Homo sapiens: one gene and its partners. The protein of the gene in region 2 purifies or fractionates together with the protein of the main gene of each other region. This does not show direct contact. Each region holds a gene or a part of one and is shown on either strand. Other genes may lie near its edges.

Region 1 (3,500 bases), on a different chromosome or scaffold from region 2:
GGCATCTTCCCAGGCTGTCAGCTTGTTGGAAGAGGTCATCACTCCCCGGAAGGACCTGCCTCCTTTACTCCTCAAATTGAATGAGAGGCCTGCCGAACGCCTGGATTACCTGGGTGTTTCCTATGGCTTGACCCCCAGGCTCCTCAAGTAAGTGCCTGCCCTCCTTCCACGGCATCACTCCTTGGCATTGAGAAAGAAGAGTTCTGTGGGCTGTGTGTCTCTGTTGGTAGCTGGTATCGGTGCTAGCCTGCTATTTGTGGCGTGCTCTTCCTGGCTCTTGCCCTTGTGTGTCTATCAGCCACTCCCCAGAGGCCACACACAGTGACCTACTGTCTTTGTATCTTTGCAGGTTCTGGAAACGAGCTGGATTTGTTCCTGTTTATCTGAGACAGACCCCGGTGAGTGAGGCATCCAGCAGAGGAGAAGTTTAGGTTTACCGTTATGGTAGGTGACAGGCCTGTCCTTGCAAAGAGCCCTAGTGCCTCCCTGCTGCATCGCTCTGAGCAGGTGGCTGTGCCTCTGAAGAGGTTTATTCTGATGGACATGGAAACAGCCATCCTCAGTGACAGGCCACATCATCACACATTTCTTCTCCGACTACACGGTGCATGCGTTGAGCTTAGTCATAAAATGGCAGAGGTACACGTGGACTTGTTCATCAGATTCTGGGAAAGGAGAGTGGACAGGAGGATCAAGGGTAATTCCTAGAGTTTTGGCTTGAGAAACTGGGTGTTGGAGGTGCTGTCGGAGATGGGACTCACTGCAGGAGGAGCAGATTTGGAGGGAAGAGTGGGAGTTCTTTTTTGATGTTAATATGAGATGCCTATTGGACATCCAAGTGGAAATGTGGACTAGGCATTCATTTGACTACAGGAATTTGGAGGTAGGGAAGTTTGGGGCTAGAGATGGAGCTTTGGGAGCCATCAGCATATTCATAATAGAATGCACTGCAGGAGGGCACGGAGCTCTTGTCTGTTGTGTTCATTGCTGTATTCCTCGCACTTAGAGTAGCAATTGCTGTGTAGTTTGTGTTCAGTAAATACTTTTGTTGAGTGAATGAAAAATATCTGGAGCCAATGAAAGGATGTGAGAGTGACTCCTTGGACCCTAACGTTTAGAGGAATGAAGAGGAGGACACAGCACATACAAGACTGAGAAGGAACAGCCCTGATGCGCAAGAGAAAGTCGGGTGTGGTGTCACACGTCAAGGTGAAAAAGTGGGAATGGGAGTCAGCCCTGTTGAGAGGATGAGGAGGATGAGGACAGCTGGCCATTGGATTTGTCAGCAGCGGTGAGCTGCATTGAAGCAGCTGCAGTGGAGTGGAGGCTTTGGCCTGGCCAGAGGGAAGAGGAGGTGAAGAACTAGAAGGGGAACAGGCGACTCTTTCAGGAAGCGAAAGGGAGCAGAGAAACAAGGTCGCTGGAGGGAGATGGGCGCTAAAGAAGGATTGTCCGATGGGAGATTCTAGAGAATGTTTTTTGCTGCTGGGTTCGATCCTGCAATTAGTGGTATGGGTGAGGGGGGCTGACTGCCAGAGTGCAGGCCTTGAGGAGGTGGTGGGTGGGACTCGAGATTCAGGAAGAGAGGTGACCACCTACTTCATCCTTCGGAACAGGGAAGGCAGAGAGCGTGGGAATGGAAGGCATCAGTTGGCTGGCTGATCTGGGGTTGGGAGGATGAAGACATTGTCTTCTGAGTGCTTCTGTCTTCCCAGATGAGGGGAGTCCATCGGCTGAGAGGGAAGTGTTGGAGGTTTGATTTTGGAGAGGGCAAAGTCAGTATCAGAGGCTAGTGTCCAGTGTCCGTCCGAGGGTTTAAAGTGGGACTGGTGAGGACTGCTGGGTGTTGGGCTGCTTCCGTGCAGGCAGGGAGCTGCAGAGATGGGTTGAGTCTCTGTCAGTACATTTGGTGGAGGCTGAGGATGTAAGTTTGGCTGTCAGCTGCAAGGAGAACGCAAGCTAGTGAGCTGTGGTGTGGTCTGCGGTGTGTCCGTGTGGTCTTGCACTGTGCACTGTTCATTTGTGACTTGGTGGTGTTTTTATGGTGTGGGGCTTTGTTGTTATGGAGTAAAAAATGTAAAAATAGTCACAATTTTAACACCTAAAGAAGCCTGCACTTGCAGACTGGCTGCCAGCACTGAGGTGTAGGTTTTGGCCCTGGAGTTCCTGCTGTGAGGCATCAAACCCATGTTGACTGGATTGTGTGGCGCTTAAGCCCTAATGACTGAGTTCAGCATCTACCTGAGAGGAGCACATATTTCCCTCCCGCACGTCCCGAGCAAGAGGCAGGCCCAGAAGAGCCAGCAGCTCTTCTCTGTGTCTGTGACACTTTTGAGGAGATTGCAGGACAGTGATCTTTGCAGCTGTTGTGTGTGAACTGAGGTGATATGAGGAAGGTGAAGGCGAGGGCTGTTTGAGAAGGGCGCCTACCCCCAGCCTGGAAAGAAGGAGAGGCCTGCGGAAGCACTAAGCCTTTCTTCTCTGAGTGTTTACCCTTCATCAATGATGGGTTATTCAAAAAAAGGGGGTTCTTGGTGCCAGTTAAACCTCTGTGTTGCCCAGAATGACCTGACCGGAGAGCACTCGTGCATCATGCTGAAGACGCTCACTGATGAGGATGAGGCTGACCAGGGAGGCTGGCTTGCAGCCTTCTGGAAAGGTGACTGAGGAGTAGGGGTTTGGGGGAGACAATGAGGTGATTGGGGGCTGCCGGGGATGCCTCCAGACCTCTAACTCTGCGTGATGGCACCCCACAGATTTCCGACGGCGGTTCCTAGCCTTGCTCTCCTACCAGTTCAGTACCTTCTCTCCTTCCCTGGCTCTGAACATCATTCAGAACAGGAACATGGGGAAGCCAGCCCAGCCTGGTGAGCCGGGTGGGGACAGGGAGGAGGGTTGGGAATGGCTTGGCTGTGTGGGAGGTGGGTGTGGTGTCCTAGGAAGGGTTTGGGCTGGAAATTGAGGGACTGGTTCTAGCCTGCAGTCACTCGCTGGTCACCACCCGCTTGCCAGGCCCCTGCTCTGTCCCAGGCTGTGCTGTCTTTCATTTTCATGGTAAGACTCTGGCTGTGCAATTTAATGTCAGAGGTGTCCATTTAGTTCATGTAGCTGGTTGGTTATGGAGGCCGATTTACATCTGTGCTCTAGGGGAGTGAGGTGCTCCATCTCTGAGGTTTAGTTTCCTGATTCATGAAATTGTAATAAGAATATGCTGCTAGCCTTCTGTAGCCAACAGCACACAGAAGTGCTTTGTGCATACAGATTGTTTGAATACTTAAAAAACAAAAAATGTGTAAGAGATTAGTTTTATTGCATATTTTATATATAAATATTTAGGTATAGCATGCATATATGTGTATATGTGTGTGTATATACTTTTTTGCCAATTATATTTTGATGGAGAAATCCGTATATCTTGAGCTGGGCAGAGCTTACACACTTTCTGTGACACCAAATGAAGTGACAAAGCAGGGAAAGAGTGTAGTTGTGTTCCCCTAACC
Region 2 (3,500 bases):
GGATGAGCTAGTAACCAGTGGCTATCGTAGTAGACGGTGCAGGGTTAGCTGGTAACTTTCCATAGAGGGGCTGAATATCTAGCTTCCGCTGATAAGTTATTACTTACGTTTTCACATCACGGGGAGTTGTTTTGAAATTGCAACTCTCGGCTGGGTACAGTGGCTCACGCCTGTAATCCCATCACTTTGGGAGGCCAAGGTGGGCAGATCACCAAAGATCAGGACTTCGAGACCAGCCTGGCCAACATGGCGAAACCCCGTCTCTACTAAAAATACAAAAATTAGCTGGGAGTGGTGGCGTGCACCTGCAGTCCCAGCTACTTGGGGAGGGCTGAGGCAGGAGAATCACTTGAACTCAGAGGCAGAGGTTGCAGTGAGCCAAGATCGCGCCACTCCACTCCAGCCTGGGCGACAGAGCAAGACTCTGTCTTAAAAAAAAGAAACTGCAAATCTCCTCATTAGAAGAATCTGCCTGAAAATGAGCCTAAATACATATTTTTGTGCTGAGTGTCCAGTTGGTGCCATTTATTTTCTAAAACACCTGTCATACCCATACAATTAGTACTTAACAACTGCTTAACCATCTATCTTTTCTCTTGGACTCGAAGCCCCTTATCTATCTTGCTTACTAAGCCCAATGCCTAGGTACCTAGAAGACGCTATGTGGATATTTTAAAATTTAATTGGAGTTAAATTAAAAACTTAGATAAGGGCTTCTCATTTGCTAGGCTTGATAAGAAAATGGAGAAAGTAATAGTGGTTGAAGCCCAAGATTGCATGTTTGCAGTATTTGTTTTCCCGATGAAGGGCCGTTTGTAGTCTGTGACTAGTTGTGTTACGATCCAATCACCCTTTCTCTCATTGAATATACAGTATATAGAGAGAGTGATTGAAAATCTACAGAAACCCAGGCTCTGTGCCAAGCACTGGGTATACAAAGATAAATGGGAAACAGTCCCTGCCTTAAAGGAAATGAGAAACAGATAAGTCTTACAGTAATACCGAATAAGTGTCATGATACAAATAAACACAGAGTGTTTGGGGAGCACAAGGAAGGGGGTCCAACCCAGGTCGGAGAATGGGAGATGGGCAGGAAAGACTCACTGTGGAAAGGGAATTTAAGCCCCACGGCGCCTGTGATATTCTTAGCATCCAACCCCATGCCAGGCACATGATGTGTTGAATCAATGAACAAAGTGACTCCTGAACCTAATGCTGAAGGATCGCTGTGTTTGTCCATCTGGGTGTGGACGGATGATCACGGCAGGTGAAGAGAGTGTGCATGACAACCCAGCCTACAACGCTAGAATCCTGGCTCTAGGGAATGACAAGATGCTGAGTGGGGTGGAGCAGAGGGGTGAGAGCTGGCATGAGCCTGCAGCATTTGGCAGGCCAGCCCACAAACTGCCTCCCTTCTTGTTCTTGTCCATATGACCGGTGACGAGAGATCGCACTTTCTTATTACAGGCAAAGCGAAGGCTGGAGCTAGGAGAAAGCGGTCATCAGTACCTCTCAGATGGTTTAAAAACCCCCAAGGGCAAAGGAAGAGCTGCACTACGAAGTCCAGATAGTCCAAAAAGTAAGGATCTTTTCATCTCTTTCCTTATTCTCCTTGGTATGGCATTTCCAAGTTTCAAAGCTTATGGCCGGAAGGATGCCAAGGTGTGAATAATTCTGGCATGTTTTGTTCTTTTTCATTTCTTTCTGTGCTTATCCAAAAAAATAAATACAATGTCAGCAGACAACCAGTGAAAGGCTACAGAGTCACACTGGTACCATAAGGGAAGACTTCTTTTAACTGTATGTAGTTTCATTTTTCAACTCGGAATACGAACTTTTGGCACCATTCTATATCAAATTTAATTTTAACTTCCCTTAATGGACATTGCTTCAGAGTCTGAGGCAAACTGGATGTCCACGAACTATGCCAGAGTCACCAGTGTCTGTGCCGACCTCAATCTCCAGCTCAGCATATGATAGCGTAAGAATTGATTGAGCCCGATAAATTGCAGGCTGTTTCTCTTTCTATCAAATACTATTACCGTTTCTTGTGGGAGAGAGAGAAACGTAGGTTAGAAATAGCCAACTAGTCCCATTATGTATGTGTTTGCATTTAACATAAGGGCTAAATTAGACTTTGTTCTCTCTCTTCCTTTAGTTCATGCATTAGGCAATCCACAAATTGTGTGACACTAAATTAAAACCTTGACCTGTGCACCTATGGGGGAACAAGTACAATATTAAGTAAGGAAATTTCCTTTAAGAGAGATGGGGAGATTTGGCAGAAGACTTTTCCAGGTAATTATTTATCAAAATGAAGCATTGTTTGGAAAATTGGTGAACAGGTGATACACGCACACACAGATACCAGAGCCTGAAAGGCCATTTGAGATGGGTCTGTTTAAGACCTTGTCCTGCAGTGCTAGTGAGACTCATAGCCTGGCTCCATCACCGTAGGCCTCGTGTGTGCTGGTCCCCTGAGGCCACAGCACTCTTTCATTCATTTGACAGATATTTTTTAGCGCCCGCTATATGTAAATTCTTCATTGGAGCCAGGGAATGGTGTAAGTCAAGGTAGAAACTCTTGAGAAATTCAAGGTGAAATGCTTTAATCAAACCCTGGAATTTTTACCTTCCCTTCCTGCTCTAATAAAAAACTTTCATAGCTTTCTATGACTTGCCAACACCAACAGCAACGACAGCCTTGCTTCAGATACTAATACTTTGGCTGCAGTGGGAAAGAGAGCTTGCTTGACTGCAAAGACACCCTTCATTTCTTTACCTTTCCCCCTATCCCCCACCCGCTCGGTTTTTGTTTTTCTTTAAGCTCCAAAATCTCCCTCAGAAAAAACGCGGTATGATACGTCTCTTGGTCTGCTCACCAAGAAGTTCATTCAGCTCCTGAGCCAGTCACCCGATGGGGTATTGGATTTGAACAAGGCAGCAGAAGTGCTAAAAGTGCAAAAGAGAAGGATTTATGATATCACCAACGTTCTGGAAGGCATCCACCTCATTAAGAAGAAGTCTAAAAACAACGTCCAATGGATGTGAGTAGGAGTCCTCCCCATGCCCCGGCTCTGAGGGGGTCGTTTCAAACTGCCTGGTTTCTTAGTTCCTCACTTTCACATCCACGCCCACACGTTCTTTTCTTTTCTCTCCTACTGTTTTCTTCTCTCTCATTCTCTCTTCCCTCCTCAGCTTCTAAGCCAGAAGTTTGAAGTCTCTTTACAAAGAGACTTTGTTTAGATACTGTCAGAGATAAAAGGATTTATATTTGATGAGCATCCAGCAACGGCATCCTTAAAGAGGTCCCTGCAGTTGGAAAGTGGACTGCTGTTCATCTGTTACATAGATGTCTGTGTGCACCCACGTGTGTATCTGACAGATGTGTACACGTCTTCAGCTTGTTTCTAATAAGAATCTGGAAATGATGGCTTATGGGTTATCTATGTGTATACGTACAACTGCATAGTTACAGAATATCTTTATCCATGGTTCTA
Region 3 (3,500 bases), on a different chromosome or scaffold from region 2:
TCTCAGCTCCCCTGACGCCCCTGGTACTCTTGCTCCTTCAGCAACGCCTCACTCCAAAGCTGTTCCATGAAGTGGTACAGGCGTTCCGAGCAGCTGTGGCCACCACCCGAGGGGACCAGGAAAGTGCTGAGGCCAACAAATTCCAGGTCACGGACAGTGCTGGTGAGCTTGGGGGGAGCCTGGCATCCAGGCTGTCTGTTGCGTTCTCTGTCCCGTGAGTACATCCAGGCCTTTTCGTTGCAGCATTCAATGCTCTGGTTACCTTCTGCATCAGAGACCTCATTGGCTGTCTCCAGAAGCTGCTGTTTGGAAAGGTGGCAAAGGATAGCAGCAGGTAAGAGGGGAGGGGGTGAAGGGGGGTAGGGTGGAAGGTGGGTCGGGACCACACACAGGAGAAGCCAGAGGCCTTGTGGCTAGGACAGAGACATGGCAACAGAGCCAGCGTCTTCTTGGGGACCCTGAGAAGGCAGCGGGGCACGAGGGACCGTTGGGAGAGGCTGGGCACTTGGGGCCAGTTGGAGCGGCCCCACCTTCTTTCCTTCCTGAAAAGGGAAGTTGTCTGCTCAGAGTCTCAGAAGGTGTGGCGTGTGCAGCTGCCTTTGCTCTCAGATTTTCCCAGGTTAGGGTTCTTGCTCTATTTCCCTTTGTAAGAACTTGTAAGTCCTGTCCATACTCCTTGATCTCTGCACTATGACTGGCCTGTTTCCTGGAGCTGTGTGTGTCTGTAGACAGGGGCCTCATCAATGCTGAGAACCTGAGGGCCTCAACTTCCCCTTTAGAGAAAGATTGGGCAGAGAAGGCCGTGGAAGGTTTTCAGAGAAGAGAGACGCACGGCCAAGCATTTGGTAGAGCATGGAGCACGTTGGGGTTCCGGGGCTGTGCAGCCATGTGACCTTGAGGCAGTGGAGGCCTAGAGTTGGAACTGCCCCAGGACACCTTCAAAGGAAGAAAGGAGACCCACAGGAGAGGTCTCGCCGACAGCGGCTCAGGAGACAGGGGCACTGTTGCTGGTGGTAGTGGTCGGGGCTGGACGGATAGAACAGAGCCATGTCCACATGGAGGCAGTGCTGTCCGAAGGGGACAAGGAAGCTGGCAGATGGGGGTGGAGGGACAGGCAGCGATTGGGAGGCAGCACGCACTGCAGCCTGAGCCACCAGGTCAGGGACCCCTGTCGAGGCAGCAGCTGTACCGGAGGGAGTCAGGCCGTGGGGAGCAGAGCTGCCTCCTGGGTCTGGGTGGGCAGCTGCAGGTGCCCAGCAGCCAGTGTCAGCACAGGTGTGAGGAGGGTCGAGGACGGGGGGCCTTTCTGGGGCCCTGCCCTTTGTCCTTCCCATGCTTCAGCAGATTTTAGTGAGCGCCTACTGCGTGGGCTCTGGTAAATGTTTTGTTTTGTTTTGTTTTGTTTGTTTGGTTTTTGGTTTTTTTTTTTCCTTACGAGATAGGATCTTGCTCTGTCGCCCAGGCTGGAATGCAGTGATCATAGCTCACTGCGACACGTACCTTCTGGATTCAAGTGATTCTCTCACCTTAGCCTCCCAAGTAACTGGGACTCCGCCACCAGGCCTGGATAATATTTTGTATATTTTTGTAGAGACGGGGTCTCACTGTGTTGTTCAGGCTGGTCTCAAACTCCTGGGCTTGGAGTTTGATCCTCCTGCCTTGGCCTCCCAAAGTGCAGTGAGTACTGGCATGAGTCTCCACACCTGCCCTCTGATTTTCTTTTCTTTGTGCAGCAAATGTGGGCCAAAGGAAACCAGTCTGCGGCAGTTGGTGGTGCCTGGGCGACCCCAGAGGTGCTGAGTACCAGCTGCTGGGCTTAGGGACCTCGTGTGGTCTCACGGTGGGGATGTGATCAAGGGGACCTAGAAAAGGTTTATGTCTGAGAGGGAGTTGGAGGCTGGGACTTCCGGGGACTCTTAGGGCGGTGGCCAACCCTGGGCAGGGCAGACAGGAGTTCAAGGCCACTGAAGGAGGAGCTAATGCACTTGAGAGGGTCCTCCTAAGCCCCTGTGTCTGTCCAGCTGTAAGGGGCCCTGAGCTTTTTTGAGTGGAGAGACGGGGGGTCTCTGCAGAGTCGTAGAGGCTATGCTGGCCAGGGCACGCGCCAACATGCTGAGCAGCCTCGCGTCCGAGCCGTGGGGCCTCCCAGCCAGGGGTGGGTGGTCTCTCTGCAGGATGCTGCAGCCGTCCAGCAGCCCGCTCTGGGGGAAGCTTCGTGTGGACATCAAGGCTTACCTGGGCTCGGCCATACAGGTGCTATTCTGGTGGGGAGGGCACGGGGGCCTGGCTGTATCTGGTGGTCGGTCCTTTTTTGTATCCCAGAATACATGGGTTTGGGGCTTCACTGTCCCCTCCTGCCCCCAGCTGGTGTCCTGTCTGTCGGAGACGACGGTGTTGGCGGCCGTGCTGCGGCACATCAGCGTGCTGGTGCCCTGCTTCCTGACCTTCCCCAAGCAGTGCCGCATGCTGCTCAAGGTTCGTGGCCCAGTCCCCTCCCTGTGTCTGTCATGGGGTCGGGGGGCCACACGGCTACCCCCACCACATCCCACTCCTGGCCAGGGCACAGGTGGTGCCCACACTCCACTGGCTCCGCTTGGCTAGAGAGGCCACAGAAGCACCTGGCCCCCACCCCCACCTGGGGTTTCTGTCTCAGGCAGTCCCTGCCTGCCCGGGCAGCGCGGCTCAGTCCGTGAGCAAAGCCACGGTGAGGTATCTTCTTCCCGGTGTGATCTCACATACGTCGGCGTGTCTGACGTGGTAAACTTTTGTGGTCCTCTTCTCACAAGGAGCAACACACCTGTTCTGTTCACTTCTGTAACTGAGCACCTAACTCACGGCTCCCCCGAGGTGCTTTGGGAAGAGCTGGTGGCCATGGGAGCCTTTGCCTGGCTGGGGAGGGCTGTGCTGGCCCTGGGGCATCCCTGCTGAGGAGGCTGGGGGGCCACCAGTGACGTCTGACCTTCTGCAGAGAATGGTGATCGTATGGAGCACTGGGGAAGAGTCTCTGCGGGTGCTGGCTTTCCTGGTCCTCAGCAGAGTCTGCCGGCACAAGAAGGACACTTTCCTTGGCCCCGTCCTCAAGGTAGTGGTGGGCCCTGCGTCTGTGTCCCTCAGCATCTGCATTGGAAATCTCGGCCTAAGGGCAGGGCGGGCTGCCTTTGTGGTTGGTGCCCCTCACTGGACCCTCACTGCAGCTCTGAGCAGACCTGGGCCCTTGGATCACGAATGTCTCACAGAGCACCTGGGGGTGGTGGGCAGGGAAGAGAGCCCTCGGCCTTCTCAGGGCCCCACCTGGACCCTGCTTCACACAGCTTCCCCAGGGGAGGGCCTCTCTGGCTGGAGGAGGACACTGGGTGTTGGGACCTGAGGCCATGGCCAGGGTACAGTCCTACTGCCCGTCCCCAAGCCATGGGTGGCCTGCATGTGGGGACCCTCAGCCCCCAGAGGGGCCCAGTGTGCAGCAGGAGCTTCTGCCCCAGCTTCTCCCAGGCCTGAGGCTG
Region 4 (2,168 bases), on a different chromosome or scaffold from region 2:
CTGGTGTTGATAAAATCTCCACTGCTCAGAAATATGTTCTAGCAAGACGGCGCTTGGTGAAGGTGATCAACAATCGAGCTAAACTGCTTTCCCTTTGTTCTTGTATCCTTTATGAAATCATGCACTTGAATGATGACCTTGAAATATAGGAACTGTTCACTTATTCTCATATTATTTGGGCACCAAAACCAGGTGGAAGGAGATAAACTTAATTTTTTCCCAGTAAATGCCTAATGTATTTCCAAATCATAGTTTTTGTTCTTATCTTTTAGAGTAGCTGGTAATACTGATAAAATACATGGGCACTTTCTGTTAGGGAAGAAGGTAGGGACATGAGACTGCTGGCACAGGACCCCAAGGTCCCCACCTCTTTCCTCAGCACACCTTGCTGCTTCCTCTTGAGGAGCCTTCAGTGAGACCCTGTCTGTTAGACTGAGGCTGTGGGTACCTCATTAAGTGAGTGCAGTCTGTCCTTTTTTCTTCTCCTCCGAAACTGGTGTGTAAAACATATTTGATGAGATTATGTTCCTTTAATCTGAGCTCTGGTATAGTTATCATAGAGACCTGCCTATTTATTCTTTGGCGCCATCTGGAGTACTACTTGTTACATTGCATGCCCACGGATTCTCAAGATTCCTTATTTGCCTCGAGAACCTTGTTTAAAAGCAGAAGACTGCAAGGTAAACTTTCTGCTAAAAATTAATGAACCATAAATACCTATTTGTGCCTTGAAAAGCTAGTACCAGTTTTTTTTTATTTTTGTTTCCAGATTACTTAGAGTGAATTGGGTGAATCAAGAGCTGTTTAGTCACTAGACGTAGCTATTTCTTGCATTTTACTTTCTGTTCACGGGACATTGTGCTGAGCATAAGAATATTCTAGAGCCTGCTCATCAGCTGTTCCTTAGCTTCTTGCTGCAGTTAGGGGGCTGATCCAGCTCTAGAAGAATGGAGGAGGTCTGCTATTATGCTGATTCTTATTGCTGGAGTGGGCCTCTGTGACTGATGGCCATATATTGGATCCCTTAGGTGGAAGGAAATAGAGAAAAGCTGAGAACCCTGGTCTGGACCAGTGAAATGCTTTCTAGGGGCTTCCATTTGCTAAAAGTTGAAAATTGAGTTCCCAATCTTGAGCCGTGTTTTTCATGGTGCTATTGTTATTATTCATTGTCATCAGGTTCCTCCACTGTGTGGTAGATAGGTACTTGCACAGCCGGTATGACTCTGTTTTTTTATCTCTAGATTCCTTCGCCTCAGAAACCAATCTAGATTTTAGAAGTGGGCTGGCTATAGTGAGCCAACATGATTTAGACCAGGTAAGGTTCTATTCTCATATTCTTTTATTTTTCTTCATTAAAGTAAAAGGGCTGGGTGTGATGGTACACATCTGTAATCCCAGCATTTTGGGAGGCCGAGACGGGAGGATTGCTTGAGCCCAGGAGTTTGAGAGCAGTCTGGGCAACATAGTGAGACCCCGTCTCTTAAAAAAAAAAATTGGCATACTGTGGTGGCATGCACCTGTAGTCACAGCTACCTGGGAGGCTGAGGTGGGAGAATCACCTGAGCCTGGGAGACTGAGGCTGCAGTGAGCTGTGATTGCACCACTGCACTCCAGCCTGGGCAACAGAGCAAGACCTTGTCTCCAATAAATGAATGAAAGAGTGAAGCAAGACCTTGTCTCCAATAAATAAATAAATAAATGAATGAATGTAAGTAAGTAAGTAAAAAGGAAAGCCTGGTATGTTAATAAGATTATGATTTTCAGGGTTGCTTACAGACACCTGGTTTGAACTCTAGCTTGACCATTTTAACAGCTATATGACTTTGAACAACTTACTTAACTTCCGAGCCTCAATTGCTTCATCTAAGAAATAGGAGGATTCAACCTCAGAGGGTTTTGTCAGAATTAAGTGAGGTTTCATGTATGTGAGGCTGCTAGTGTTGTACCTAGAACATGGTAAGCATTCCGTGATTGGTAGGCATTATGATCTGGAAACTCCTGATGTCTTTTGATTAGCTTTGTAGAACTTTTTAGGTACAAAGTATCACTCAGCACTTATTTTTCAGGAAATAATTTAATGGTGAGATTGAGAGCAGCCAATACAAATCCCGCCGTCATAGACCATAGTACACAACACTGTGCTCTTACTAACCTGTTGATCAGTAGTG
Region 5 (3,500 bases), on a different chromosome or scaffold from region 2:
TTCCTCCAAGGGTAAAAATTGTAAATATTTTGTAAATACTGTGTATGTGTCACATTGAAATCTACCGTATCTTTGGCAATGCTTAAAAACTATATCACATTATTTGTTAACTTGCATTAGTCAAGGAAAACAGTTGACTTGCTGTAGTAATGTTCTTTTGTAGCTTTATTTACTGTATGCTTTGAGACTGGATCCCATAATTTTTTCCCCGTATCTTTGTTTTTAGTTTCAGAAACCACTAATGATTCGATAATACATGATGTGGTTGAAAATCATGTTGCAGACCAACTTTCATCAGACATTACACCAAATGCTATGGATACGGAATTTTCAGCATCTTCTCCAGCCAGTTTACTGGAACGGCCAACCAATCATATGGAGGCTCTTGGTCATGACCATTTAGGAACCAATGACCTCACTGTTGGTGGATTTTTAGAAAATCATGAGGAGCCAAGAGATAAAGAACAATGTGCTGAAGAGAACATACCAGCATCTTCACTCAACAAAGGAAAGAAATTGATGCATTGCAGAAGCCATGAAGAGGTCAATACTGAACTAAAAGCACAAATAATGAAAGAGATCCGAAAGCCAGGAAGAAGTATGTATAATAAGAGACGAACCTCAGATCTGATTTCTGTATGTGCTCAAAAAGCAAAAAAGAAAAAAAAAGTCAAGTAACTGTAGTAAAAGAATACATATGATTCTAGATCTGTCTTGAACAACATCTCAGTTAAGATCCTTTATTCATCTGACCAACACCAAATATCTTCTATTTCCAAGGTACTAGGTATGGTGGTAGGCAGCAGGGACTGAGAGCAGAGCAACACTGTACAGATAAATTGACAGGAACCCATAGTCTTGAATATTCTGACCAACGATGGAATTTTAATATAGCAGCTAGCTCACAAGAGATATAGTGAAAATTAAATGACTTCATGTCTGTAAAGTTCTTGTCATAGTGCCTACCACTATGTTTAGTAGTTAAACTGTGATATTATAGGATATGTTTAGGCCAAAAAACTAAAGTTATGAAAGCTCTCTGGTATATGAACACAAAAGAACTTCGTGGGAAAAAGTTCAGTATTATTGGCATTCATTTAGAGGATGTTAACAGATCACTTGCCCTGGGGTAGTAGAATGACCTGGGTGGTCCAGAAATGGGAACAAATCAGTCCTTGGAGTTCAGACGTTTATAGCCCTTGCAGAGTTTCATATGAAAACTTTAAACTGAAATAACACTCTTAACCTGTCTGGTTTTTACCCCCACTTCCCAGTTACCCCCATGTTAGCTGTTAGAATTTTAAACTGTAAGGATGGAGTTTTGTAAAGGCCACTTGTTCTTATTTTTTAGTGATACTACCATAAAGCTATTTACTCATCCTTTTAAGCTTTATGTTTGATACCTTAATAGGAACTTTTACTTACAAAGCAGGGTTTGATTAGTTGTTTTATCTTTGTTGCTGTGTACTTACTTTTACATATATGTTAAAATATAAAATCTCTAATGAGTGGTGAAATTTTTATGTAGAATGTTTTTATCTCAGTATATCTTAATATCATAAACTGCAAAAGAAGAATATTGAATAAGAATACAAATGAAAGGCACTTAATTTTTCTTTTTGTTTCTTTTGCTTTAAGAATATGAAAGAATCTTCACTTTACTGAAGCATGTGCAAGGCAGTTTACAAACAAGACTAATATTTTTACAAAATGTCATTAAAGAAGCATCAAGGTAAATAAACTATTGCATATAATGAAATGGTGATGAAATGAGTCCACAGTTTATATAGGCAGTATTTTAATAGTATCCGTTTTGCACTTGTATTGTTTATAAATGTATATGGCATACCAACATATAAATAAATTCTTATTCTTTTTTAGTTTATTGAAAGAAATTCACTTAGAAAACAGCCACACATACATTCTTCAGGAATTATGGACCTTTTCTCCCTACAAATTACTGGATACTTGGAGAATTCTTGTTATTCTTCTCTGTAGCTTTTTGATATCTTTACATTAATATTTTATAACCTTTAATTTTTCTCCTTTATACATTAATATTGGTGACTAAAAATAACGTACTTGAGTGTCATTTATTTTTACATGGGAAAACGTAATTAAGGAGACAAGAATTGGACAAATGGGCCTTATTCTGATTGTTTCAGTAGCCCAGGATCATTAGTACATTGGCCCTCTGTATCCCTGGGTTCCACATTCATTGGATTCAAGCAACCACAGATTGAAAGTATTTGGAGGCGGGGAAATGGATGGTTGTATCTGTATTGAATATGTACAGGCTTTTTTTTTCTTGTCATTTTCTAAATAATTCAGTCTAATTCATATCGTATTTACACTGTATTAGTATTATAAATAATGTAGAGATTATTTAGAGCATATGGGAGAATGTACATAGGTTACATGCAAATATTGGGCCATTTTATACAAGGGACTTGAGCATTCGTGGATTTTAGTGTTCATAGGGAGGCCTAGAATAAATCCCCCATCCATACCGAGGGATCACTGTGTAAAGAAGGTGGATAAAGGTTATAAATGGTAATTAAGAAGTGCAATTAACTGGAAAACATAGTTGTATGAGTTTAAAAACATTTTTTATTTTCCCTTCAAGATTTTGGGGATTTTAGTATTATAAGAAAACTTGGGGCTTATCACATCCCACCTTCTAAATGTAAACACACTTATACTTTGTCCCCCTGTCTCTTCTATGCTACACATGAAGATTTTAGATAAAGTTGGTTTTGTTTCTGGTTTTCTTTTCTTTTTGTACTTTTGGAGTGGCTAGAGCATAGGCCAGTTTGCAGGATCAAGATAAGGCTATAACTTTTCATGTAATTTTGAGTATTTAACCTATTATGCTCTTTATGGTAACATTCTGTCAGCTAAAACCTCATTAGGAATTTATATCCCCGGTATCTGTACTTCACTTCTGCCACCTTTTAGAGAGTTGTGTAGTATTATGGTGGCTATTTATATTAGCTTCTAAGTAGCAAGGAAGTAGGAATAAAATGTCCAGTGTCTTGGGATATTCTTAAAACCGTCAGCAGTTACGTATACAGATGCAATTTTAGTCTGTCCATATTTGTTACTGAAAATCTTTAAAAGTTGTTACTTGAACTTTAACTGCTTGCTATACTCTGTATTATAGATGTCTATCCTTGATTTGCTAGCTCTCAAATTGTAATAGAATACCATGGTTTTTAAATGCTGCTGACCAATTTTCATTTCTTCTTCCATTTTGTGGGAGATTATATTCATACTTTGTTCACATTCCTTTCAATATTCAGCTTACAAAGAGCATGAGAAGAAGCTATTGAAGTATTTGCTTGGGGAGCCCAAATTTCACTAGAGTGTTTGCAGCCCTTGAATATATTTTGAATATATTAGTTTTTTGTTTTTTTGTTTGTTTTTTCCTTTTTCTTTTCGGTTGTGGAAGGAACAACCTCTTTCCCATTGTTTAGCCCTAGAGTGTTTTAGGGACAAAC
Region 6 (3,500 bases), on a different chromosome or scaffold from region 2:
ATAAATCCATACGTGAACATTTGTACCCAACATACAAAACACACACGTTCCTGTTTATGCACGGCATATTTTTGTATCTGAAATGTTTTAAATGTTCAAGTAGTAATTTTAAGAAAAAAATTGAAGCTGAGACTTAACTCCTTTCAGTAATTTTGCAAATGCAGTGCTAAAGATTTAACTCCAAATTCTTCACATTGTCTAATTTGTAATTTAGGATGAGTTATGCTGAATTTCTTTGAAAAAAAAGTATATAAAGTAATTAATGCAGATCAATTTAAAAATAACATTAAAACTTTTTTGATGTTTGTATCTACCAGTGTTAGTCCTTTTATCTACTAATTGTAGTTACCATATTTACCCTGCTTATTGTTAGAAGGACTTGAGCTTGTTTCTGGTAGATAAGCCCCCGGTTACTTCTGATTTTTTAGACCTGGCCTGATTTCTTCTGAGCTGCTGCTGTGTTCATGTGTTAATTTTCAAAAATATCTGTATCACATATATGTTGATATAAAATTGGACTAACCTAGTTTAAATAGTCAATTAAGTTAGCATAATAATAAAAGTATCCTATAGTGCATGGCAAGTTCCTTATTGCAGTAATAATAAATGGAATGTCATTGACCTGGTAGGACTGAGAAAATATTTTGAATACAACTGATAGCATCACAGAATTTTAATGGCAGAAGGAACCTTAGAGACAATCTAAATTTAGTTCATCCCTTTCATTTTATAGGAATAAGACATGGGGCCATAAAGGTCAAGTCTTGCTGAAACTTACATATAAGCTTATTTGTGATAAAACTGTGACTGAAACTCGGGACTTAAAATTCTTTTATATTCTTTTACCTCCTAACAACTAAAGCACCTGTTCATTCGCTCTTCAGTGAGTAGTGTAATTCTAGAGTTGATTTATGTGCCTTTTTGGCGTTTGACTAGTTTGTGGTTTTTAAATTTAATTTAATTTCAATTTCTTAATTTTTTGGGACAGGGTCTCACTTTCTTGCCCAGGCTGGAGTGCAGTGGCATAATCATGGTTCACTCTATCCTCTACCTACTAGGCTGAAGTGATCCTCCCATCTCAGCATCCCTAGGAGCCAGAACTACAGGCATGCACCCCCATGCCTGGCTAATTTTTTAAAAATTTTTTTGTAGAGATGGGATCTCTCACTATGTTATCCAGGCTGGTCTCAAACTCCTGAGCTCAAGTGATCCTCCCACCTTGGTCTCCCAAAGTGCTGAGATTATTGGCATGAGCCACCACTCCTGGCCCGTTTGACATTAACGCCAGTTAATTAAATGATTTCAAATCTGACTTAAATGCAAGTATTATTTTAATTAGTTTGTTTTACATTGTTTCTTGTTGCTGTTTATTGTAGCTTAAAACAGAATTTGACAAATTGTTTGAAGATTTAAAAGAAGATGATAAAACCCATGAAATGGAACCAGCTGAGGTATTGAACCAATATTTTTTATTTAAGACTACTCAGAATGTTTAAATATACTTAGAATCTACTTTTTGTTTAATCACAGGATCTGCATGTGAAAAAGGAATGGCTTAATGTATTTCGCTTTATGACTTTTTATTTATAGGCTATTGAAACACCACTGCTTCCACATCAAAAACAAGCTCTAGCTTGGATGGTGTCACGGGAAAATAGCAAAGAACTTCCACCATTCTGGGAACAGCGAAATGACTTATACTATAACACAATAACAAATTTTTCTGAGAAGGACCGACCAGAAAATGTCCATGGAGGAATTTTAGCTGATGATATGGGTTTGGTAATTATTTTTTTCTTTAGTTAATAAAATCTAATTTTGTGATTATGATTTTCTAGAAAGTAATTTTGAAGTAAAAAGAGATAGGAATATGTTGGTACCAGTTTGGGACTAGATCTTACTATCTTTGTAGAACACAGTTTTTCCTGTAGTTTTTAGTTAAAATAGTGGTATAAAGATGTGTTCCTCAGTTTTCTTTTTTTTTTTTTTGAGATGGAGTCTTGCTCTGTCACCCAGGCTGGAGTGCAGTGACGCGATCTTGGCTCACTGCAGCCTCCGCCTCCCAGGTTCAAGCAGTTCTCCTGTCTCAGACTTCCAAATAGCTGGGATTACAGGCATGTGCCACCATGCCCAGCTAATTTTTGTATTTTTAGTAGAGACAGGGTTTTACCACGTTGGCCAGGCTGGTTTTGAACTCCTGACTTCAAGTGATCCGCCCGCCTTGGCCTCCCAAAGTGCTGGGGTTACAGATGTGAGCCACCCTGCCTGGCCATGTTTCTCAATTTTCTTTGCTCTTTGAAATTCAGGGTGACCTGTCTTTCATAGGTTTTCTTTTAAAAAGTAAAGACAAAACAATGTTATGTGAAATTGTATTCCATCACAAATATTGTGTTATGCAGAGTATTAAATAGATACTTATGTGTCCTTACACTAGCAGTTTTTATATTTTTCAGTCTCAGTAACCCTTTCTACTCATAAAAATTACTGATTTCAAAGAGCTTTTGCTTTTGTGTGCTGTTATCAGTAGTTATAGTATTAGGCAGTGGTAGCTAAAGATAGCAGTACAAACTCATTGCTTGTTAACATAAATAGCATATTTTTAAAAGAAAAATAACTATGCCAAAACATTAACATTTTTGTTGCAACAACTGGCATTGTCACATTTTTGCACATCTCTGTGTTTGGCCGAATAGATGGCAGCTGAATTCTCACCTGCTTCTTCATTCAGTCTGTTCTGTTAGGTTGTTTTGGTTGAAGTATATGAAGAAAATTTGTCCTTACGACGGTATGTTGCTGTAAAGAGAGGAGTATTGTAATAGCTTTTTAGATAATTGCAGATTTCTTTGATATACTGCATCAAAATTCAATAAATATTAGTTTATTAAAGGTTAATTGTTGTAATATGGAACGCTAAATCATATCAGTGAGCTTTTTATACCCTGTTTTGTTAAAATCTATTTGTGTATCTTGCTCATTGAATGAATATTTTACCCATGTATGATTTTATAACACCAGGCATTGCTCATTTAGAAAATGTTGGTTCATTGAGTTGGGCAGACCTACTAAATGTTGATGTATTTCATATGCAATATCCAAAACTTACATTCATTAATATTACCACTGATGTTATTAGAAAATCATTTACATTTTGGGAAGGCACTATGTTCATAGTGTCACACACAACTTTTCCAACATTCTAATTTTCTATTGAAAACTCACATTTTATCATTGACAAGCTCAGTTGTTTCCTTTGTAGATGACAGCCTCACTTTGTTCATTTTCTAGAAAGTATCTTTCAGACACTCAGTCGTGATTGATAGTTGTCATTCAAGTAAAAATGGTGTCGCATGAAAAAAGTGACTAGTTGAGCTTATAACTCCCATCTTGAGTGATTTTTCTCTAGCTAACCCTCATAGTTTGATATGCAACAGAAGTAGTTAATATGTAGTTTCCATTTCACTACACAGAATATTAAAAAGATTTGTACTGAAGTAATGAGA
Region 7 (3,500 bases), on a different chromosome or scaffold from region 2:
TCAATGAGTGACATTTAATCACCACCATTATTAAAGCCAGTCTTTTATTATTGTTTATTCTTTAATTTATAAATTTTCAGTATTTCTGGAAAATTCTTAAAAAGTTGAACCGTTTAGTGAATTGAACCTTTTAGTTTCACTACATTCTTAGGATATTTGTTTTTTTGTTTTTATAGCAATACGTTTGGTTTAATATTGGCAGTGTGGACACCTTTGAACGGAATCTGGAAACTTTACAGCAGGAATTGGGCATAGAAGGAGAAAATCGGGTGCCTGTTGTCTACATTGCTGAAAGTGATGGGTAATCTCAAATATAATATTTTGTAGACTGTTGACTGTGCTGCCTGTGGTTCACTGTGTTCTGTCCCTGGGTGCAGGGCTATACATTATATTCTCAAACAGGCCTTTATCAGTTTGGCCAGATTTTTAAAAAACTATTAGTAACTCACTAGTTTTTGCATGACTCATTCATTTTCTTTTTTTTTTGAGGTGGGGTTTCGCTCTGTCGCCCAGGCTGTAGTGCAGTCGTATGATCTTGACTCACTGCAACCTTTGTCCCCACCCCAGTTCACGCGATTCTCCTGCCTCAGTCTCCAGAGTAGCTGGGATTATAGGCTTCCACCACCATGCCCAGCTAATTTTTGTATTTCTAGTAGAGGCAGGGATTCACTATGTTGGCCAGGCTGGTCTTGAACTCCTGACTTCAGGTAATCCACCTGCCTCCGCCTCCCAAAGTGCTGGGATTACAGTTGTGAGCCACCACACCTGGCTTTTTATCTTTATTTTTATTTTTATTTTTATTTTTGATTCATTCCTTTTGTACACATTTATACTTATCTTGATGAAGCAGTGGTTTAGGGTATTAACATTCAATGCATTGACCTTTGGTAGGATTTTAGCATAAAGAACCCCTTTGTATCAAAGAGTGCCATTCCCATCTTTGAACTATCATTTATGTTTACATTTCACAGTTTTCCAGGATTTTTAGGTGATTCTTCTCTCATCAGAACTTCTTCTTTGGGGGTTGTCTTTAATAAGACCATGTTAGTAACCCCACTTAAAGTCTGGGCAGATGCTCCATTTATTTCGAAGAGTTGGTTGCCATGGAGCTTATTTGGGAATTCTGTTGCCTTTGAAGAACACTTGCAAGTTACCCTCCTTTGTATTAAGTGCAGAAGGTATACCTTGGTGTAGCTATATATATTTATATTGATATCTTGCACCACATGTGAAAGCTGGAGGTGAGCAGCCAGTCCTAACCCGTGTTGCGCTGTGTGTCCCCAGCTCTTTTCTGCTGAGCATGCTGCCTACGGTGCTCATCATCGCCTTCTTGCTCTACACCATCAGAAGAGGGCCTGCTGGCATTGGCCGGACAGGCCGAGGGATGGGCGGACTCTTCAGTGTCGGAGAAACCACTGCCAAGGTCTTAAAGGATGAAATTGATGTGAAGTTCAAAGATGTGGCTGGCTGTGAGGAGGCCAAGCTAGAGATCATGGAATTTGTGAATTTCTTGAAAAACCCAAAGCAGTATCAAGACCTAGGAGCAAAAATCCCAAAGGTAAAATGAAATTTAAGATTAACTTTTTGAAATGTTTCTTGATCTCTGAAGTTATAATTCTGTGAAGTTTGATTACTTATTATAGATAGCTGTTTTTCTGTCCTTCCTCTTTCTCAGCTTACTAGGCTAGCCTCTGCCCAACTCGAGGATCGTTTTGGGTCAGTTCTGTGTGCATGTGTCTTGTATAGTGTATGTATTCCTGAAAATATCTGTGTCACCTCCTCTTGGAAGATTTTCTTGATTCGTCTTCCTTTTCCCTCCAATCTGATTTAGATGCCCTATCTCTCAGCAACTGTAGGCCCGCTGTAGCTCACTGACAATGTCACACTCTGCTGTCACCCAGTGTCCCTTCGAGGGATGTATGTGGACAGGACACCTGTGCTGGCGCTGAGGTTCACGGCACAGGATCCAGTGGAGAGGACACAGCACTCACCATCACCTTCCCCTTTCCAGCAAATATGCTCTTGCCCACTGTGCTAGTGGTGGGCTGTACCCTACAGGGCTTGGTGCCCCTAGGGCTAGGCGTGGAGCATTAACTTCATATTTGTTAAATGGATCAGCTATTAAGTAAATGAATAAAAAGGTATAATTCTTTTAAAAGTCCATGAATAAATTTTACTTTAAAGGAATCCTTTGAAAGATAATCATTTCCTTGATTTTTATGTCTTACTTCTATAGATAAAAAGTCATATTTTATGAATTTATAACTTACTTAGTACCCGTTTGCATTACACCTAACTGTCTCTACAACTTAATATAATAGTTGTGTAGGGCCAGGCGCAGTGGCTCACTCCTGTAATCCCAGCACTTTGGGAGGCTGAGGTGGGTGGATCACCTGAGGTCAGGAGTTCGAGACCAGCCTGGCCAACATGGTGAATCCCTGTCTCTACTAAAAATACAAAAAATTAGCTGGGCATGGTGTTGTGCGCCTGTAATCCCAGCTGCTCAAGAGGCTGAGGCAGGAGAATCGCTTCAACCTGGGAGGTGGAGGTTGCAGTGAGCCGAGATCGTGCCATTGCACTCCAGCCTGGACAAGAGTGAAACTCTATCTCAAAAAAAAAAAAGTGTATTGTTTGAGCAAACACATCTTTCTTTGAAGTTAAGTTCATCATTGGTCGTTAGATTTCTACTTCATTTGTGAAACTTTTAAAGAAGAAAATAAGCAAAATTTTAAAAATACCTTAAGGTTTTATTACAAAGCCTAGAAAAAATATCATTTGACCATATTATCTACCTCCTCACAGTATTTGGATATGGTAGTGTGGTAGTATGTCTATAAATAAGAGAGGATACTGTTTGTGGGTAGTCAGTGGAAATAAAAACAAATTCACAGTTAGGTTTTAAGTTGCACGTCCAACCATGCTAAAAATGTACTGATTTGTACATGAAAGTAGAAGTCAGAAGTTGGGTTTATTAATTATTTGAGCTCAAAAACCAATTTTACTTGTAAAGAGTAAAAGAATTACATAAATCAGGAGTGTGGTGTTGGTGTCTTCTTAAATTATTTAAGTAAACCTTAGCAGATTTATTAGTATATTCCTAGCCCAAGTCACCCTTTACATACTGTTAGACTAAAGGTCTAAAAATCAGCCCTAGGAAAAAAAGGAAATATTTTAAATTTCACATTCTTACCAAATTTTTTGAAACAAAATTATTTTTGATAATCTTTTTATTCTTACTAATATAAAAATGTTCTACCATAGCTCAGATGTTTAAGTAATATTTAATATATATCAATAAGATTTAGAGACAGAGTTATATCTTGTAATTATTTGTGGATACACAATTTACTTTTCTGGAATTCTCATTAAATGTAATTTCTTTTTTCATATCTGAAGGGTGCCATTCTCACTGGTCCTCCAGGCACTGGGAAGACGCTGCTAGCTAAGGCCACAGCCGGAGAAGCCAATGTCCCCTTCATCACCGTTAGTGGATCTGAGTT

The links.
Region 1: the proteins of E2F3 (region 2) and NAT10 purify together in Homo sapiens (pull-down; one large-scale study listed by IntAct). This does not show direct contact.
Region 3: the proteins of E2F3 (region 2) and NOC2L purify together in Homo sapiens (pull-down; one large-scale study listed by IntAct). This does not show direct contact.
Region 4: the proteins of E2F3 (region 2) and NUP205 purify together in Homo sapiens (pull-down; one large-scale study listed by IntAct). This does not show direct contact.
Region 5: the proteins of E2F3 (region 2) and INTS6 purify together in Homo sapiens (pull-down; one large-scale study listed by IntAct). This does not show direct contact.
Region 6: the proteins of E2F3 (region 2) and HLTF purify together in Homo sapiens (pull-down; one large-scale study listed by IntAct). This does not show direct contact.
Region 7: the proteins of E2F3 (region 2) and AFG3L2 purify together in Homo sapiens (pull-down; one large-scale study listed by IntAct). This does not show direct contact.

What each region holds. Positions count from the first base shown.
Region 1 is NC_000011.10:34,136,629-34,140,128, forward strand, and holds part of NAT10 (RNA cytidine acetyltransferase), read left to right. Parts: intron 1-13; coding exon 14-147; intron 148-349; coding exon 350-398; intron 399-2,562; coding exon 2,563-2,659; intron 2,660-2,756; coding exon 2,757-2,867; intron 2,868-3,500. UniProt on the Homo sapiens protein: RNA cytidine acetyltransferase that catalyzes the formation of N(4)-acetylcytidine (ac4C) modification on mRNAs, 18S rRNA and tRNAs.
Region 2 is NC_000006.12:20,478,379-20,481,878, forward strand, and holds part of E2F3 (transcription factor E2F3), read left to right. Parts: intron 1-1,467; coding exon 1,468-1,579; intron 1,580-2,827; coding exon 2,828-3,047; intron 3,048-3,500.
Region 3 is NC_000001.11:952,757-956,256, reverse strand, and holds part of NOC2L (nucleolar complex protein 2 homolog), read left to right. Parts: intron 1-41; coding exon 42-162; intron 163-243; coding exon 244-334; intron 335-2,174; coding exon 2,175-2,253; intron 2,254-2,364; coding exon 2,365-2,475; intron 2,476-2,968; coding exon 2,969-3,082; intron 3,083-3,500.
Region 4 is NC_000007.14:135,644,917-135,647,084, forward strand, and holds part of NUP205 (nuclear pore complex protein Nup205), read left to right. Parts: coding exon 1-102; intron 103-551; coding exon 552-680; intron 681-1,241; coding exon 1,242-1,315; intron 1,316-2,168. UniProt on the Homo sapiens protein: Plays a role in the nuclear pore complex (NPC) assembly and/or maintenance. May anchor NUP62 and other nucleoporins, but not NUP153 and TPR, to the NPC.
Region 5 is NC_000013.11:51,366,037-51,369,536, reverse strand, and holds part of INTS6 (integrator complex subunit 6), read left to right. Parts: intron 1-226; coding exon 227-598; intron 599-1,638; coding exon 1,639-1,732; intron 1,733-3,500. UniProt on the Homo sapiens protein: Component of the integrator complex, a multiprotein complex that terminates RNA polymerase II (Pol II) transcription in the promoter-proximal region of genes.
Region 6 is NC_000003.12:149,069,534-149,073,033, reverse strand, and holds part of HLTF (helicase-like transcription factor), read left to right. Parts: intron 1-1,376; coding exon 1,377-1,451; intron 1,452-1,590; coding exon 1,591-1,782; intron 1,783-3,500. UniProt on the Homo sapiens protein: Has both helicase and E3 ubiquitin ligase activities. Possesses intrinsic ATP-dependent nucleosome-remodeling activity; This activity may be required for transcriptional activation or repression of specific target promoters.
Region 7 is NC_000018.10:12,356,728-12,360,227, reverse strand, and holds part of AFG3L2 (mitochondrial inner membrane m-AAA protease component AFG3L2), read left to right. Parts: intron 1-176; coding exon 177-301; intron 302-1,284; coding exon 1,285-1,558; intron 1,559-3,396; coding exon 3,397-3,500. UniProt on the Homo sapiens protein: Catalytic component of the m-AAA protease, a protease that plays a key role in proteostasis of inner mitochondrial membrane proteins, and which is essential for axonal and neuron development.